2 separate regions of the Homo sapiens genome follow, and region 2 is linked to region 1. The links come from fine-mapping of genetic effects on gene expression. A gene starts in region 1. The other region holds a variant in brackets. All regions are shown on one strand. Distances are from middle to middle. Region 1 holds the start of MAPDA (N6-Methyl-AMP deaminase). Region 2 overlaps UBR1 (ubiquitin protein ligase E3 component n-recognin 1).

Region 1 (4,319 bases):
CACTGGGATCCTGACCCAAGCCATTGTCCCTACATGGAGGAAATGCCAGTCACTTAGTACAGGTTCCACCACGCTTCGACCCCCATACACAAACAAATATTCCTGATTCTGACAGGACACTTCTGTTGTTGAATGCCGCCAACAACACAAAGTGGAATCATCCTTTCGGCCAGCCTTTGTTATTGTCACTTTCAGGTCCTCAGTGTTATTATCCTCACTCTTAAAAAAATGAAGCTGGAGAACCCCCAAGGCTGGACTTACTGGGGACAGTCTCCCTCCCAGAACCAGAACCCGACTCTCTGAGAGTCTTGTCATGGTGTGATAAAGGCGTCCATCCCACTGAACTCCAGTCCCACAACTGCCTATTTGGCTGCCTTTCCATTCAGAGTCACAATCTCTTGAGAGCAAGTGAAACTGGCTCACTCGGCAGTGCCGCCCCTCCTGCTCTCCAAATCCTCCTGCACTGAGAATAACGTCTGGGCTCAAGAAGACAGAGGCGTGGCCATATCTCTTCAGGTTTGGGACCTGGCCCTCGCTACTGACTACGCTGGCAGGGAATACCCCTGAAGGCGAAGCAGGATTTACGCGAGGAAATGCCTCTGAGGATGGAAACACTAGGGTGTGGGAGAGGGTGTCTCCCCTAGAAGCTGCCAGAATGAAATAATGGGCGCACTTCAGATGCCACTCCTCAAATTCGTCAAAGGGTTCAATATTTTCCACCCGCCGGCGTTCTTCTGCGGGAAGAAAGCAGTGATAGAATTCATTCATGTCCACGGCACCGCAGGCGGTCCAGCCAGCTTGAAGGAAGCGGCGCCGCTGCGCCTCCACGTCAGGAAAACGCTCCAGGCCATGCAGGGGGGAGTTTAGCTGCCGAAAATGTTGCAGCATGAACTGGCCAAAGGCGTCTTGAGGCCTCATCTGCTCATAGACCACGAAAAGGGCATTAGGAAAACGCTGGGCTGCCCAGGCGATGAGGGCCGCGGCACTCTCCGGCTCGAGGTAGGTCAGCACCGCCTCGGCCAGGAGCAGAGTGGGTGAGGCTGCGTCGAGCCCCGCGGCGCCCAGGGCCTCCTCCACTCGCTGGAGCTGCCGCAAGTCCAGACCCAGGATGCAGTAGTCTGCGCTCTCAAAGCACAGCGCGGACGCGGGCTCCCCCCTCTCGAAAGGCCCGGTTAACGCGCACAGCTCTGGCGTCTCTCCAATCCTTTCTGCTTTGCGCCGCGCCACGTCCGGAAAATCCACCTCCCAGACTGCAGCCCGGGCCAGGCGGCCCGCGGTTTTTAAGCGAAAATAGAGCGAGTCGAAGCCAGCGCCGAGAGACAAGATCTGCGCGCGAAGCGCGGCCTGGGGCGCGCCAATCTGCTCCAAAAAAGCGCGCACGCAGTGCCTCACGGCGCGTGCGCGGACGTAGTAGCCTCGGTGAATGAGCGGTGCGCGGCGCGCCGCGCCCGGAACCAGCAACGCGGCAAAGGGGTCCTGCACGTACCCGCGCGCGGCCAGGGAACGCTTGCTGAGGGCGCTGCTGTCGTTGGTGTTCTGTACCGCGCCTGCCCGACGCTCACGGCTCCGGGGGCCCATGGCCAGAAGAGACTCAGGAATGGCAGTCTGTCACGGTTGTGAGCCGCCCCTTGGTTAGCACACACCTCACGGACCTCGGTAGGGGGAAAAAAACCACCCATGCTCCTGGACTTCCCCTTCCGCCGGCACTTGTGCGTCACTTCCGGGAAGAGCGCATCTCGCCAACCAGAATTGAGGAGGGTGTAGCCAGTGCTAAGTTCGCTTGCGGCTGACCTTTCTTTGGAATGTCGTGAGTTCCATTTGTCCCAGAATACGGTCCGCTACCGCTGTGACATGAGTGTTAGGGAAGGCGGGTTGTCACGTTTCTACAAGCCTTCCAGTCAAAAGGGAAACCTTGCCTAAGTCCTTGTAGTTGAGAAATCTCTAAGAGGTGAGTCTGTGGGGACTGACGACTTGGCTTCCTTGGACCGCCAAGGAAGGGTCTGGTAGGAGCCAAGAAGGGTCGGCACCACGGACCTTCAGTAGGCAAGGATTAGTTAGCTTCCTTGGGTGCTAATAGTTGCTGATTTATTTAATGCTCTCACAGTTGCAAAAGAGAACCCCATTTAAAACTTGAAAACAAGTCACTAAGGCCAGGGTGCAAACTGAAGAAACCGACCTTTACAAATAATTTATAGACACCTAACAAGAAGACGTTTCCCCACAGATAGTAGACTGTTGATTCCCTTGTATTCCCAGCCCTATGTTAGACTGACGGTGAATAAACCACTCAGCCTCTCTTTCTCATCACACCGCCTTGGAGAATTCTGTGGATTTTAAAGTAGTGTTGAATATGTCCCCAGAAAGGGGAGTCACTGAAGAGAGGTGATTGTTCCCTGTGATATGTTCTGAGCTTTGTTTTTAAGGAGTAAATCCAGGTTAGACTTCAGAATAATCATAAAGTTTCTAAATTGGGTGTCTGGGAGTCATCCATAGGAAACCACTTCCAGAGACATTTAGGAAATTTATCATTTGTTCACTGGGATTTGGTGACTGACTGGCTGAAATAGAAAAGGAAATCAGATAACTTTATGGTTAACTACAGGTGGTACTGCATAATGGTTAAGAGTGTGAGTTTTGGAGTCCAGCAGATTTGGATACTGGAGTCAAGAAAAAGTTTCGTATTTTCCAATGTTTTCTTGTGGAACAAAATGAAATAAGAAAGAAAAGGTTTGGATCAGGATAAAGATTCGGTAATTGAAAAGTGACATTTAGATTTGGTGTTTAAAAGCTCATTAATGGCCTTAGGGAGAGCAGTTTCTGTGGAGCAATAAGGGCAGAATCCATGTTTCAGTGAATAGGAGGTGAGTTAAAGGAGGTATCCAGTCTAAATTATTATACTTTCGAGGAGCTTAACTCAGAAGGAAAAAAGGGTCAGGGCAGTGGCTAAAGAATATTGTGGGATAAAAGAGTCTTTTGTTTTGTTTTCAGGTGGAAGCAAATACTGCACATGCGTGTTGGTCCTGTGAGGGAAACCAGCTAGTGGAGAGGGAGAGGTTGAAGGAACAGAAAAATGAGAAGACAACTCACTGGTAGAGTAACTTGGAATAGATAGAAATGGGATCCTGGGCACGTATTAGTTGTGGGGATAGGAGAATGAATCCTTTATCTGTGACTCCTGATGGGGTAAAAAAAAGATTATGGATAATCATAAGCTCAGGTGTGAGGTAGGGCAGAGAGAAAAAGAAGGAATTTGCACCTGATGGCTTCTGTTTTCTCTGTAAAGTTGGTGACAGAGTTGTCAGTTTAGTGTAAGGCATTCAGATCTGATGGAACATTTGAGCAGTTTGAGAATTGCTTCTGAAGGGATTAGAAGAAGGGCTCACCTATGCCTGCTGGGTCAGTGGATCCTCACCTCTAAAATGAGATTAAGTACTGCTTCGTGAGGTATCTCAGGGTTGATTGAGGGGCAAATAGAAAAAAAAAAAAAGTTGAAGGACTTTGAAAAATACGTAGCACCATAGAAACAAATTTATTTAATGACAGGTTCCTAAAATGTAGGTGTTATGTCAAAAATACTACTTGTTTTGCAAAGACCAGATCAAGAAAAGTAATTAAAGAAGAAAGAGAATGGAGTAAAATTTCTGATTTCGATGCCTTATGATTTAGGCCGGGGGAGGAGGGGCCATTGTTTAAATCTCAGTTTATTCTTATATAAAATGGGGATAATAATATCTCAGGGGTTGTTGTGAGGATTTAAACAAAATAACTATCTAAGACACCACAGTGCCTGGCTCATGGTAAGTGCATAATAAACAGTAACAAATTTTTTTTTATTCTGAGTTCCCTTTTGGGGGAGTAGGTGGGAGCATGAAAAAAGTTCCCTGGGAGACAGGATACTTGCTTCTGGCCCTGCTCTAATATTGATGAAGTATTACTAACGTGGATCTTATCCCAGTGTTTGTTGCCTTCCGTCCCAGAGCAAAACCAGTCCAGAAAAGTTAAATTTGTCATGGCATGCTGTTGTTGGTATCCATGTTTTAGGCAAGGAACAACAATTTTTTTTAATGTGTAAAGATTATGATTGCTTAGTTGCTTTTTAATTTCCATAGGTTAACATTGTAGCCAGTGGGTCAGTAAATTTACTCACAGCTAGTTAAAGGTCAGTCTGGAGGATGGTTTGAATGGGGCACAAATTAAGGTCAGGATCCTGGAGTAAAATTGAAAATCTGGCCGGGCGCAGTGGCTCGCTCCTGTAATCCCAGCTCAGGCTGGTGGATCACTTGAGCCCAGGAGTTTGAGACCAGCCTGGGCAACATGGT
Region 2 (4,391 bases), 240 kb before region 1:
AGGCTGAGGCAGGAGAATCACTTGAACCCGGGAGGTGGAGGTTGCAATGAGCTGAGATCATGCCACTGTACACCATCTCAAAAAAAAAAAAAAAAAAAAAAAAAAAAAATTAGCCAGATGCGGTGGCACATACCTGTGGTCCCAGCTATTCGGGAGGCTGAGGTGGGAGAATTGCTTGAGTCAGAGAGGGAGAGGTCAGTGAGCGGAGATCATGCCACTGCACTCCAGCCTGGGCAACACAGTGAGACCCCATCTCAAAAAACAAAACAAATTATACTCTTGGCTGATTTAGGCAGAATGTCTGGGTGCTGATGCCTTAAATACCCTCTCCATCAGTCTCACTACTAGCTCTCTGTCCCTCCACCCCCACACCAACTTATTTATCCCTCAAGGCCCAGCTCAAGGCCAACCTTAGCGAATCCTTCACTGATCAGCCCAAGAAAATTTTTCTTCTGTTAATTCTAATACAGTATTTGAAGGCAGTACTCATTCTGTACTTATACCACTGGCTGATATCATTAATTACCTTTAAATGTGTACATCTAGCCTCTTCAATTAGAATGTAAGCTCCCTGAGGAGAGGAACTTTGCTCTTCAAATCCCTGTATCCTATAGGCCTAGCACAAGTACACAATAAAAGTTATCAGTTAATTGCTAAATGCTACACATTTCTTGCCAGAGAAAACAAAGCAAATTTTGATAACATTAAGCCTTCTATAACTTTGTGTATAGAATTTTTTTTTTCTAAGACAGAGTCTTGCTCTGTCACCAGGCTGGAATGCAGTGGCACGATCTCGGCTCACTGCAACCTCTGCCCCCTGGGTTCAAGCGATTCTCCTGCCTCAGCCTCCCAAGTAGCTGGGACTACGGGCGCGTGCCACCCCAACCAGCTAATTTTTGTATTTTTAGTAGAAACGGGGTTTCACCATGTTGGCCAGGATGGTCTCAATCTCTTGACCTTGTGATCCGCCTGCCTTGGCCTCCCAAAGTGCTGGGATTACAGGCGTGAGCCACCGCGCCCAGCCTAGAATTTTTATGGGAAATAAAGTTCAGTTACACTCTTCACAAAAATGTTTTCCATTATTGCCAAACTGTGGAAAATTTTTTTCAACTAAAATAGGTTTGATTTTTTGCCTTTGGTTGGTTGTTTTTAAAATTTTCCCCCATTTTCAACAGGAATAAAATTAAGAATTTTTAAGTACCAAGTCCAGGAAAAAAAAAATAACTGTTTGAAATTAAGGGAAAGCTTTCCTAATTGACTATTCTGTAAAAAACAAGTTCTTAACAAGTTCTCAACATTAAAATTCCCAAACATTCCAAACATTTCCCTCATCCCCAAGGAGACTAGAGATATGTTTTCAACTCTGACCCAACAGCTTAGATGCCTGTTTGGGAACATCATTCTGAAAAAGGAACTTACTTAAGTAGATTAGTTTTGTTTAAACCACAATTTGACCTTCCTTAAACAACTGCTAGACATCTACAGAGCCTTCAGAGCCCAGTAATTGTTTTTCTAATTCTTCTTTTTAAAGTGGTAACAAAACCTGGAGGCGCTACCATTTTTCACAGCCACTATGGATTAGTAATAATTAGAGCATCTCTAGGCACCAAAAATCTTTGATTATACAATGTTTTCTTCTAATATTATTCTACAGACTCAAAGGTTTACAGCAACCAGGCACAATGGCTCATGCCTATAACCCTAGCCCTTTGGGAGGCCAAGGCAGGCAGATCACTGGAGCCCAGAAGTTCAAGACCAGCGTAGGCAACATGGTAAAACCCCATCTCTACAAAAAAACACAAAAATTAGCTGGGCATGGTAGCATGAGCCTGTAGTCCCAGGTACTCAGGCTGGGTACCTGAGTGGGAGGATCACCTGAGCCC[A/G]GGAGGTTGAGGCTGCAGCAAGCCCTGATCGCGCCACCGCACTTCATTCAGCCTGGGGAACAGAGTGAGGCTCCGTCTCCAAAAAAAAAAAAAAAAAAAAACCAAAAAGGCAAGCTCATAACTAAGCTAAAATCTACTTTCCTGTAACTTTTATCCTGTTACTGAAATAAACCAATATAATTCACTCTGCTTTTTCATCAGTCTTTTCAAATAAATGAAGATAACTATTACGTCTCTCATTTCTAGTCTCTTCATTTCATGGCTAAACTGAAAAAAAGAGAATAAAGAAATTTGGCCAGCCCTAAAGACATGGTATCCTGACCACTCTCCAACTTGATTACCCTTATGAAACTGCACAGCATGCTTCCATAAAGAGGAATAGGACTATTTATTACCTTCCTTATCCTGAGCACTAAACTGCTTCAAAAGATCACATTCTGAAAAGGCGTGGTGGCTCAGCTGTAATCCCAACACTTTGGGAGGCTGAGGCGGGCGGATTACTTGAGGTCAGGAGTTTGAGACCAGCCTGGCCGACATGATGAAACCTCATCTCTACTAAAAATACAAAAAAATTAGCTGGGTGTGGTGGTGCACGCCTGTAGTCCCAGCTCGGGAGGCTGAGGCAGGAGAATCGCTTGAACCTGGGAGGCAGAGGTTGCAGTGAGCTGAGATCGTGCCACCACACTCCAGCCTGGAAGACAGAGTGAAACTCCATCTCAAAAAAAAAAGCAAACAAACAAACAAACAACAAAAACATCCATTCTCACATTCTTTTTTTCTTTTTAAATTTTTTTCTATTTCTTTTTCTTTTTTATTTTCTTTTTTATATATATTTTAAATCCTCTTTTTCCTAGCTCCTGCAAGCAAAGCATTCTTTGGCTGCTACATCACATGACTTGGTTAAAGTGCAGACAACTAAAACCCTTAGATCAATCACATGTAAGAGACCTAGTCCTATACCAAATGAACCTAGATATAAGGCTTTACTTTCATCACAATTAAGTTAGTTTTGACACAATATTCAGCCTATATGGGATTTATCCTTTACTTGTTATCCCTACCAGCCTTGTGCTGTCTGTAAATATGATAAGTCTTCTATGCCTTTATGGCATTGATAAAATAAGCCAGAGTCAAATATAGAGCCACATGACAAGTCCACTCTCTTTTCTTTCCTGTTGAGATAACGTATAAGCATGCTGTCAGAATTTGGTTTTTGAAAACATTTTGTCCCTCCTAAGGGACAAATTCTCTTTGTCCTATTTGTTGTATTCTCTTTTTCATCTCTGTCATAAGTCATGCCCCAATTTTTTAGGCTTTCCTTGAAGTATCTGGATAAGTAAAATCTGCTTTCATAAACTCTGAGGTATCTATTTCATATTCTCTTTCTGCTGTATGGAATATATATCTGCAAACCAACTAAAATCCTCTCTTAAATTACAAGGCAGAACATGTGTGTATTTTTAAAAAATTGATAAATTAACAGACTTTCCCTCCAGTGGCTAAAGTCATTTCTGGCTTACCCATAAATACCAAAACTTCAAAGGCATTTTAAAAGGTGGTCCATAAAGACATTAAGTAGTTACAGCTTCACTCCTCTAAACAAGTCAAACAGACTTTGTTCTGAAGAGTGGCATTAAGTAAACTATTAGAAAGAGAATTATATTCAAGTGAGTAACAGTAGACTCCATTCTGGACAGGGTCTGTGTCATTCCTGGGCAGCAAGTGGGCAGTTAGGAAAGTGCACTAACTCTACTGGAGTCTTATCAGTAACGTTTACTTACCACAGCATATTTCCATAAGCACTCAGATTAGAATTAGAGTGTGACAACATTAAAAAAAAAAAAAAAAGGCTGCATCAAATGCTTTAAAAAAACTAAGCTCATCAACTATGGTTTATTCAAGAGGAGGCATGTTAACTGAAAATATCTTGAAAGAACATGTAGGCGGTCATAGTAAATCACCTGGCATTAGAGGTCTTAATATTTTGTGTTAGGTCATCTGAGGCAAGGGGTTAAAAGCTTAAGGAAAATTATTTCACAGAGCACAGCATATGCTTAATACCTTTACAGAAATGGATAAAGTGGCAGCAAGGGAACTCCGAGGTAACCCTCAAAGTCAGCATCCAAAGAAAGGATGGGCAAGATACAGGCACACCTCAGAGACATTTCGGGTTCAGTTTAAGACTACCACAATAGAGTGAACATAAAGTGAGTCACACAAATTTTTTTGGTTTCCCAATGCATATGAAAGTTATGTTTACACTACACTATACTAAGAGTGCAATAGTATGAAGTCTTTAAAAATGTACTTAATGTTAAAATACTGCTAAAAAATGCTAATGATCATCTGAGTCTTTAGAAAGTTGTCATCTTTTTGCTGATAGGGGGATCTTCCCTCAATATTAATGGCTGACTGATTAGGTTGGTGATTGCTAAACGTGGGGGTGGCTATGGCAATTTCTCTCTTTTTTTTTTTTTTTCTGAGACAGAGTCTCACTCTATCCCTCAG

Evidence for each region. PIP is the estimated chance that this variant, and not a neighbour inherited with it, causes the effect. A credible set is the group of variants that fine-mapping cannot tell apart.
Region 2: its variant is the best candidate, but not a certain one, in a credible set for the expression of MAPDA in fibroblasts (GTEx, PIP 0.87).

Annotation. Positions count from the first base shown.
Region 1 is chr15:43,328,912-43,333,230 of GRCh38, forward strand. MAPDA (N6-Methyl-AMP deaminase) reads left to right here and starts at 1,761. Exons shown (of 13, transcript NM_001324366.2): 1 at 1,761-1,948; 2 at 2,989-3,089. It overlaps LCMT2 (leucine carboxyl methyltransferase 2), which reads right to left and starts at 1,662. Exons shown (of 1, transcript NM_014793.5): 1 at 1-1,662. The coding sequence starts at 1,578. RefSeq lists enhancers at 1,570-2,520, 1,753-1,802.
Region 2 is chr15:43,091,828-43,096,218 of GRCh38, forward strand. The region is part of intron 1 of UBR1 (ubiquitin protein ligase E3 component n-recognin 1); the gene reads right to left. Among named protein-coding and RNA genes, the nearest start is that of UBR1, 12 kb to the right of the region's middle. The variant A/G (reference allele first, on the strand shown) is at 1,884.